2 separate regions of the Homo sapiens genome follow, and region 1 is reported to be linked to region 2. The links are microRNA targets in miRTarBase. Many come from high-throughput screens and were not tested one by one. Region 2 holds a microRNA gene; the other region holds the end of a gene's coding sequence.
The links. Region 2 holds the annotated microRNA hsa-miR-4772-5p (UGAUCAGGCAAAAUUGCAGACU, at 2,537-2,558, opposite strand). A microRNA usually pairs through its seed, bases 2 to 8, with sites in the 3' UTR of a target mRNA and lowers its output. Matches are read on the target gene's strand: a 7mer-m8 pairs with bases 2 to 8, a 7mer-A1 pairs with bases 2 to 7 and ends in A, and an 8mer does both.

Region 1: the mRNA of HEBP2 is a reported target of hsa-miR-4772-5p. Seed matches in the 3' UTR shown: 8mer at 2,436-2,443.

Annotation. Positions count from the first base shown.
Region 1 is chr6:138,412,560-138,417,089 of GRCh38, forward strand. HEBP2 (heme binding protein 2) reads left to right here. Exons shown (of 4, transcript NM_014320.3): 4 at 321-4,530. The coding sequence ends at 519. Among named protein-coding and RNA genes, the nearest start is that of HEBP2, 11 kb to the left of the region's middle.
Region 2 is chr2:102,430,858-102,434,857 of GRCh38, reverse strand. MIR4772 (microRNA 4772) reads right to left here and starts at 2,569; the gene lies at 2,492-2,569. The region is part of intron 3 of IL18RAP (interleukin 18 receptor accessory protein); the gene reads right to left.

The DNA of each region.
Region 1 (4,530 bases), not on the chromosome of region 2:
TCTCCTGCTTCAGCCTCCCAAGTAACTGGGACTACAGGCATCCGCCACCACATCTGGCTAAGTTTTGTATTTTTATTAGAGATGGGGTTTTACCATGTTGGCCAGGCTGGTCTTGAACTCCTGACCTCAAGTGATCCGCCCACCTTGGCCTCCCAAAGTCCTGGGATTACAGGTGTGAGCCACCTCGCCTGGCCGAGAGGGAGTAACTTTGGAGCTGCACTTCACTCAGCATTCACGGTACTAGCGCCCGCTTTTTGCTTCAGACTGACATTCACATCAGTATTAAAATCATTCACGGTTATTTCCTTTCTCCTTTGTAGGTCTTTCGATGGATTTTCTAGTGCCCAAAAGAATCAAGAACAACTTTTGACATTAGCAAGCATTTTAAGGGAAGATGGAAAAGTTTTCGATGAGAAGGTTTACTACACTGCAGGCTACAACAGTCCTGTCAAATTGCTTAATAGAAATAATGAAGTGTGGTTGATTCAAAAAAATGAACCCACCAAAGAAAACGAATGAGAAAAATGAAAGGAAGTTCTGCTGTCAGAGGCAAAACATCTGTTTATCATAGACATCAACATGACCTATAAGTAAAGTGCGTGTCTAGTGTCTTCTATTGAGAGTACTACTATTAATTAAGCTTATTTCCAATGTGCCTTTTTAATGCTTGAAGTTTTATCTACATACACAGGTAACAGAGGACAGTAGTCTGTAAACATATAAATCGGTCATAACTATCGTGGTCTTTATTTCTGTGAGGATCTAGGGAAATTTCATGTCACTTCCCTCCTTCACTGCATCACAATCATATTCCCTTTTTTTTTTCTTGGATTTGTGTCAGTTGGATGATATCCCCTCCAGATAGTATCAATAAAATGTTAAAATTATTTATCTTGTGTGGAACCCCTAGGCTGTCAGGCCCGGAGAGGTGAAATTCAGCTGGACACAAAAATCAAATTGTCTTTTGTGGCTGCCACCATTACATTCTCTGTTGTATGTATTACTTTCCCTCCTGCATCCTCCCACTGCCCCACTGCACAAGAATACTCCATGTAACTCCATTTAAATGTAATGAATTCATTCCTTTCTTTCTGGTCTCCACTTAACCCCCTAAAAATCTTGCTTTTTCCCCTAAACATTTCCCTGAACTGTCACGTATTTTCATTCATTCTTTAACTCATTGTAGGGAGTCCCTGCTATGTTCCAAGCACTCTGCTAAGGACTGGGAGGTGGTGGTAAGAAAACCTGTGTCCCAAGCCCCTCATCACTGACTTCCTCTTCACTAACTCCAACAACATCTTTCCACCTCCTTAACTATTTCATTCACCCTCCCACTGTGAACACCACAGACAAGGCCCCTGGCCTCATGGAGTTTACATTCTAGAGGGTGAGGGAGTTCAACACAAATAAGATGCTTGAAATTGGCAAGTGTGATGAAGAACAGAATAGGGCAGTGGGGTAGAGTGTGGTTAGGTAGGGTGTGGTGGACATCACATAAGGTGGTCAGCAAAGGCCTCTCAAGAGACAGTTGAGACTTGAATGACGAGGATGAGTCAGATGAAAGCCAGGGGCAGAGGTGAGGGGAGCATCTTGGGCAGAGGTGACAGTGTTAAAGGGAGAGGCCACGTTCAGTACCCAGAACAAAAAGCTGCACACACTGCTTGCTGAGCAAGAGAGCACTGCTCTTGTAGGGCACGGTCTCTCGGATAAAGAAAACTGCGGACCTTATGCAGGGTTTTAGGAAGGATTAACAGACTTTCAAAAGCATTTAGGAGTCGAGGGAGCTTTAGTTGTGGGGATGCAGTTACCAGAGTGAGGCCGCTGCTGATTAGCATGATTTAGAAGCCTAGTTTGGAGGTGAGGTTACTGATGGGAAATTGTCATTGATTGTTTCTGGTACTTAATTGCTACTGTGGCCAAAGGATGGTCAGTTTTATTCAGGATTTGAAGTGGTGGCAGACAACGTGAGGTGTGCCACTCAAATTCACCTTCAAGAAAGTACCAGCCGCCCAGCTGTGAGGGGTGTGGTTCGCCGACAGTCTCCCCGTTACCGTCTTCAGGGTCCACGCCAGATTTCAAGATAAGGACACACTATTCTGTGGGAGAGAGGGACCTAGTCTACAACTGAGCAAGGCAGTGGTAGCTGACAGCATGCTTTTTTCTGGCAATTCCCAGCCAATAACTGAGCAAGGTGGTGGTATAAGACCTAGCCATTTAGGCCAGGTGCAGTGGCTCACAGCTGTAATTCCAGCACTTTGGGAGGCTAAGGTGGGAGGATTGCTTGAGCCCAGAAGTTCAAGACGAGTCATGGCAACCTAGTGAGACTGTCTGTCCAAAAAATAAAAAATTAGCCAAGCGTGGTGGCACACGCCTGTATTCCTAGCTCCTGAGGTGAAAGGATTGCTTGAGCTCGGGAGGCGGAGGTTGCAGTGAGTCCTGATCATGCCACTGCACTCCAGCCTGGGTGACAGAGCAAGATCCTGTCTCAGAAAGAAAAAAAAAAGTCCTAGTCATTTCTACCAACTCGAAAGCCCTCTAATAAGCAGTCTCTGCTCTGGAGCTTTTTGGTGGGCTGCTAGAGACTTTGTTAGATCCTACCGTTCCTCTGCTCAATCCTGCTTTTCCCTTTTCCTTTCAGAGATGTCACTTCACCAGTTTTGTACTCCTAACTCCATCTCAGCCTAAAATTGGCACAATTGGTACCAGTGGCCCACGAACGTAGGTGGTAAGACAGCATTTGCAGGCTGAGTGACTCACTGTCTGGCTGGCTCGGAGGCCCCCATCCCTGGTGGATAGGTGGCACAGACAGTCCCTGGCACAAGAAGGCTGTCCAGTGATGAAGACTTCAGATGAAATGGCATGCTGGTGCAGGGGAACGCAATGACTGGTGGGTGATTTGGGTGTCTCAAATATGGGAAGGGTGGATAAAAGAGACAAGGACAGTGGGCTTCCATGGTTATTGCTGAGTTGGATTGACGTCCTGCAAGTGGATAATGAAAAGCTGAGGTCAATTAACAAACAAAACTAAGTGTGAGCCGCAGAGTCTCTGTGGTAGCTTGCCAACAATCCTCATCTCATGCTGTAGCCAAGCAGAGCAAGCTGAAGGCCAAGCACAGGATTTGATGGTAAAAGTAGCTAACAGCCAACAAATACTCAACCAAGCCAGGTCTGTTAGATCAAGGTTGGAATCAAACTTGGGATCCCAAAACATGGGATGGGAGCATTTAGTGGATCTCCCCAACCATCTGCCTCCCTAGAAAACTCCCTGAATATTCACATCCTTCAGAAGAGGCCCACCCTTCCCCATGAAGAGCTGGAACTACCCTCCCTTCCTGCCTCTTCCCTAACACAAGGGAAGACAGTGTCCAAGGTCTTTCCCCATGAAGCAAAAGGTGTCCCTCAGGACTGGTCCCTCCCCTTCTCCTGGCTACCAGGCCTATAACGAGACTTAAGTCACAACATAACTGATTGCGGCTGAGGGGTCTGATGAGGGAGAAATGGGATCTATGCCAGAGGAGCCACCTAACCTGGCAGCATGTACTGCAGGGGCCAGGGGCGTACTCTTGGGACTGGATCCTGAGGGTGCTTGGTCAAAGGGGCTGGGTTTATACAACTAGATAAAGGAGAGGGTATATTGACTTGGGGCTCTCAGGATAGAGGATTTCACACCATGAGAAAAATGCCAGGAGATAATACAGACTCACTGCTCTAGGGCAGCTTGGTAGAAGCCTAGAAAGAGTGATCAAAATGTTGAAATGCCTGAATGGCTGGGACAAACAATAGAGAAAGGAATGAGAAGGCTCAGGGAAGGGAGCATGCCAGCATGGATATATGAGGCAAGGTGACCCATCAGACAATTATGTTCCACGGGAAGGCCCAGGGGACCCATCCTTCAGCAAGGCTGCTGGGAATGCACTGATAAGCGGGCTTGGGCATCATAAAGGAGCTCAGCGGTGGCTCTCCTCGGCAGGCTGGGGCTGGCAGGAAGGGCTGTGATGGAACTTCACTTGCTGAGAGCAATGTGGATGATGATGAGACCTTGAAGAGCCCAGGTGGCAGTGCCAGCCACAGAAGCCAGGGTGCCATCAGTATCCTGTTAACCACTAAGCTCCAAATGGCAGCCGAGGGGTCCTGACCTGTAAAGTCTCATGGAAATAGTTGGTAGAACAAGGCATTCCTAGGGACAAAAGAGCTGACTAATCAACAAGGGTAAGGCTTTATATATAATCAAAAGTGAGCAAGAATTGATGAGCAGGGGACTGAGAGAGATCACTCCAATTAAAAAACAAAAACATGATTCCTTGCCAGTTTCTAGTTCAGTTTTCTGACCTAGAGCTCATTAATTGCAGAGGTGACTGTATCCTAGGGGAAAGTTTCCTGCAACATTTCAGCAGGTGTACACAGTAATGATCCCCTCATTCTTTTTCTAAAGGATCTATGGCCATTTACTCAGGTGGCTCTACCCTGGGGAAAGAGGAATACCTGGATACGTCAGGGTCCAAGTTAACGTCTGATACCCAGAAACCCAAA
Region 2 (4,000 bases):
TTTGCTAACAACAATCATATCAAGGCAATCTCATTGTTGCCCACAACTGAATAGACTGGAGGTTCACAGGAGTATGGCAGACACAGAGTATCTTCACTATTGTGAGTCACTTGAAAAATATTCTCATGATCTCTCTGTTAAACCAAAGGTACATTGTGAGCTGAATGATCAGATATAGGGCATTCGAGTGCCCTTTTAGTTAATTAAGCAACACCCTTGCGTTGTGGATGAATGGATCATATGTAACTAGAAGGATCAAACTGGAGTTAACAGCAGAGCACTCTGTCCCTGGTGTTAGCCTCGCCCGTAGTTTTAGCAGGGGCTTGAGGGAGAACATACCATGTTGATCTCATCTACATGCCTCACAAACCTGCGTGTGATGGCTAATATGTTGGCATTCAAAATCAGAATTCCAACCTCTTGACATGTAGAATGAACTAAAAACAACAAATTATTTAACAGAAATAAATATAAAATCATGAACATAAGTTACAAATTCTACTCTACAAACAAAAATAGAGAGAACTTGCTTGATTTCAGTTTTTGTGGAAAGACTTGCCTGCCAACTCAGAATAAATCAACCATATAATGAGGCTGTCCCAAAGCTAAAACAATAGTGGGGCTGTGGCAATATTCTGTTCTGAACAAGTAAGGAAATTCTTCCTCTGTTTCAGTGCTGGTTAGACAGCATACAGATGATTGTTTTGAACAGGTGTTAGAAAGCTGTCCAGATCTTCAGAGTTCTGAAATGTTCATAGTGAGAATAATCAAATGGGCCAATGTTTCAACCCTAGAAACAGTTTTGAGAAATATAATCTAAATTATCTTCTTCCTATTTGGAAACACATTAAATTAACTTATTCTCTATTTAGAAACACATTAATCTTTGAATCTAGCCAGTCTCACCATGCTTACCAGTTATCCACAGCACTAGGCCCACAGGATGCCAACAGGTGCCAGTTACAAGAACTAGGAAATGAGAAGTATCAGGTATAGGTACAAAACTTCTTTGGGGTCGGCATGATGGCTCACACCTGTAATCCCAGCACTTTGAGAGGCCGAGGCAGGTGGATCACCTGAGGTCAGGAGTTGGAGACCAGCCTGGCCAACATGGTGAAACCCCATCTCTGCTAAAAATACAAAAATTAGCTGGGTGTGGTGGCGCACACCTGTAATCCCAGCTACTTGGGAGGCTGAGGCATGAGAATAGCTTGAACCTGGGAGGTGGAGGTTGCAGTGAGCCAAGTCTCTAGCTCAGTGCACTGAGCTAGATGCGCTCTAGCCTAGGCGACAAAGAGAGAGATTCCATCTCAAAAAACAAACAAACTTCTTTGTGGTTGGCATGATGGCTCACACCTGTAATCCCAGCACTTTGGAAGGCCAAGGCAGGAGGATTGGTTGAAACCATGAATTTGAAACCAGCCTGAGCAACATAGTGAAACCCCTTCTCTACAAAAAATTTTTAAAATTAGCTGGGTGCAGTGGTATGTGCCTGTAGTCCCAACTACTTGAGATGCTAAGGCTGGAGGATCACTTGGGCCCAGAAGTTCAAGACTGCAGGGAGCTGTGATTACACCACTGTACTCCAACCTAGGTGGCAGAATAAGATCCTATCTCTAAAACAAACAAACAAAAACCTTCCATGCAACATAGGGCTTAAAATCAACCCAGCAGCCATGTCAGAAGTGTGGCAAGAGAATGTGGCATGAGTGAGATTGTCTTAAACCACCAATGGAAATGTTATTCAAGGTGCAAGTCCTACTAACAGGAGGTCACAGCAATGTCGTCAAAACTCATATCTCGGTGCCCTAGGCCAGTACAGGAGAGACTTTCCTACTACCCTTGATTATAATTTTGACTTGTGTCAAGGATTTGCTTAGCTGAAGATCATAAAATGCCGTTACATTACATGTAACTATTATTTATTTAAGATGAAGTTTGTTTATGCCAAGGCTATTTTTTCATTACATTTTTAGAAATTAGAAAAATATATAGAAAAAGTTAGTAGCATAAATAATAAATAACTCACTTTAATTCTGACTTTTTCAGTCATTAAATATTTTAATTAATAATCTCCAAGCATGGTGACCCAGCCAGGCTCCAGCACCTTCCTGCAGCCTTCCCCAGGCCAGGAGGCAAAGGCAGGTCAGCAGTTATCTGCAGAAGGAGCAGCTGGCCCCACCCAGGTCCAGAAGGTGCGTGGCAACCCAATCAAGCCTCAATGCCCTGCCTAAGGCTATCCCTGGCCCAGGGGTAAGATCAAGCCCACACACATCTTTGTAGCCTAGTTTCTCCCCCTGCCCATCCCAAATTGCTGAGCAGCAATCCCAGATAACTAACTTTGCCTCAGGGCCTAGCCTGTTGTCCTGCCCAACTACACATTCTAACAACAGTATTTCTCGGCCAGATGTAGGGCATTTGGGTGCCCTTTTAGTTAATTAAGCAATTCCTTCATGTTGTGGGTGAATGGAAGACACAAGGGTATTGCTCTGTGACTGCCTCTGATCAGGCAAAGTTGCAGGCTATTTGGGAAGACAGTCTGCAATTTTGCCTGATCAGAGGCAATCACAGAGCTCAGCCAGCGACTCAACCTGACCATAGAGTTCAGAAAGTGGTCTCACTGGAACGCAAAGCACAGCAAGCAATTCCACTTGACCTCAGTGCACAGAAAACAGCCAAGCCCACCTAGAGAACTCAACACCAAAGTCTGCTTATCTGGGATTGCTACCAACTAGCCCACCTGGAATCCCAGGCTAGACTACATAGTGAAGGTCTGCTACCACCAAAGATCACCTACAAAGACCAAAAGAGGTGGCTGTTTCCTCAACTGCATAGGCACCAATGCAAGGAACAATGATTATGAAAAATCAAGGAAATATGTCACCATCAAAAGAAACTAAGAAAGCTATCATAATGAAATAGGAAGAAGTAAAGATCTAAGAAATAACTGACAAAACTTCAGAATAATCCTCTTAAAGTAGTTTAGGAAACTACAAGAAAATATGTATAAAAATAAAATAAATTTTAAAAACAATTTTCAAAACAAAATGAAAAGTTTAATAATAGAGAAATAGAAAAAAAAGTTTTAAATAGAAATCCTTCTCCCTGAAGTGTGGGTATTTGAAAAATAAAGAAATCCTACAGATAAAGAATATAATACCTGAACTATAATATCAACAGCAGATTTGATTAAGCAGAAGAAAGCATCCGTGATGTCAGAGATGACATTTGAAATTATCTAGTCAGAGGAGCAAAAAGAAAAAAGAATGAAAAGGCTTATGGAAATTATGGGACACCTTCAAGATTCACATATTAGGAATTTTGGAAGATGGAAGAAAAAAGAAGTCAGAAAGCATATTTAAGGGAATATCAGCTGAATATTTCCTAAATCTAGGGAAAGATGACATTCATGCATAGGAAACTCAGAAGTTGCCAATCAAATTCAACCCAAAAGGGGTTTACCAAGATACATCATAATCAAATTGTCAAAAATTCAAAGACAAAGAAAGAATATTGAAAGTAGCAAGAGATGAGAAACATATCATGTTCAAGAAAGTCCCAATATTGCTATCAGTGGATTTCTCAGCAGAAACGATATAGGCCAGGAGAGAGTGGGATGATATATTCAGTGTTGAAGGAAAAAAACCCAAACAAACTGCCAACCAAGCAAAGCTGTCCTTCAGAAATGAGAGGGAAATTAAACTTTCCCAGACAAACAAAAGCTAAGGGAGTTCATCACCACTTGGTCTACTTTTAAGAATTGCTAAAAGGAATTATTTAAACTGAAATGAATGCCTGCTAATTAATAACAAAAAATATGAAAGTAAAAAATTCAATGGTAATAGTTAATACATAGTCATATTCATAATTCATTAATAATGTAAGGGTGGTATATAAAGCAATTTATCATTACTATGAAGGTTAATAGACAAAACTAATAAAAACAATCCTAGCTGTAATTAATCATTAAGAAACAGAAACTACAACAAATGTAAAATTT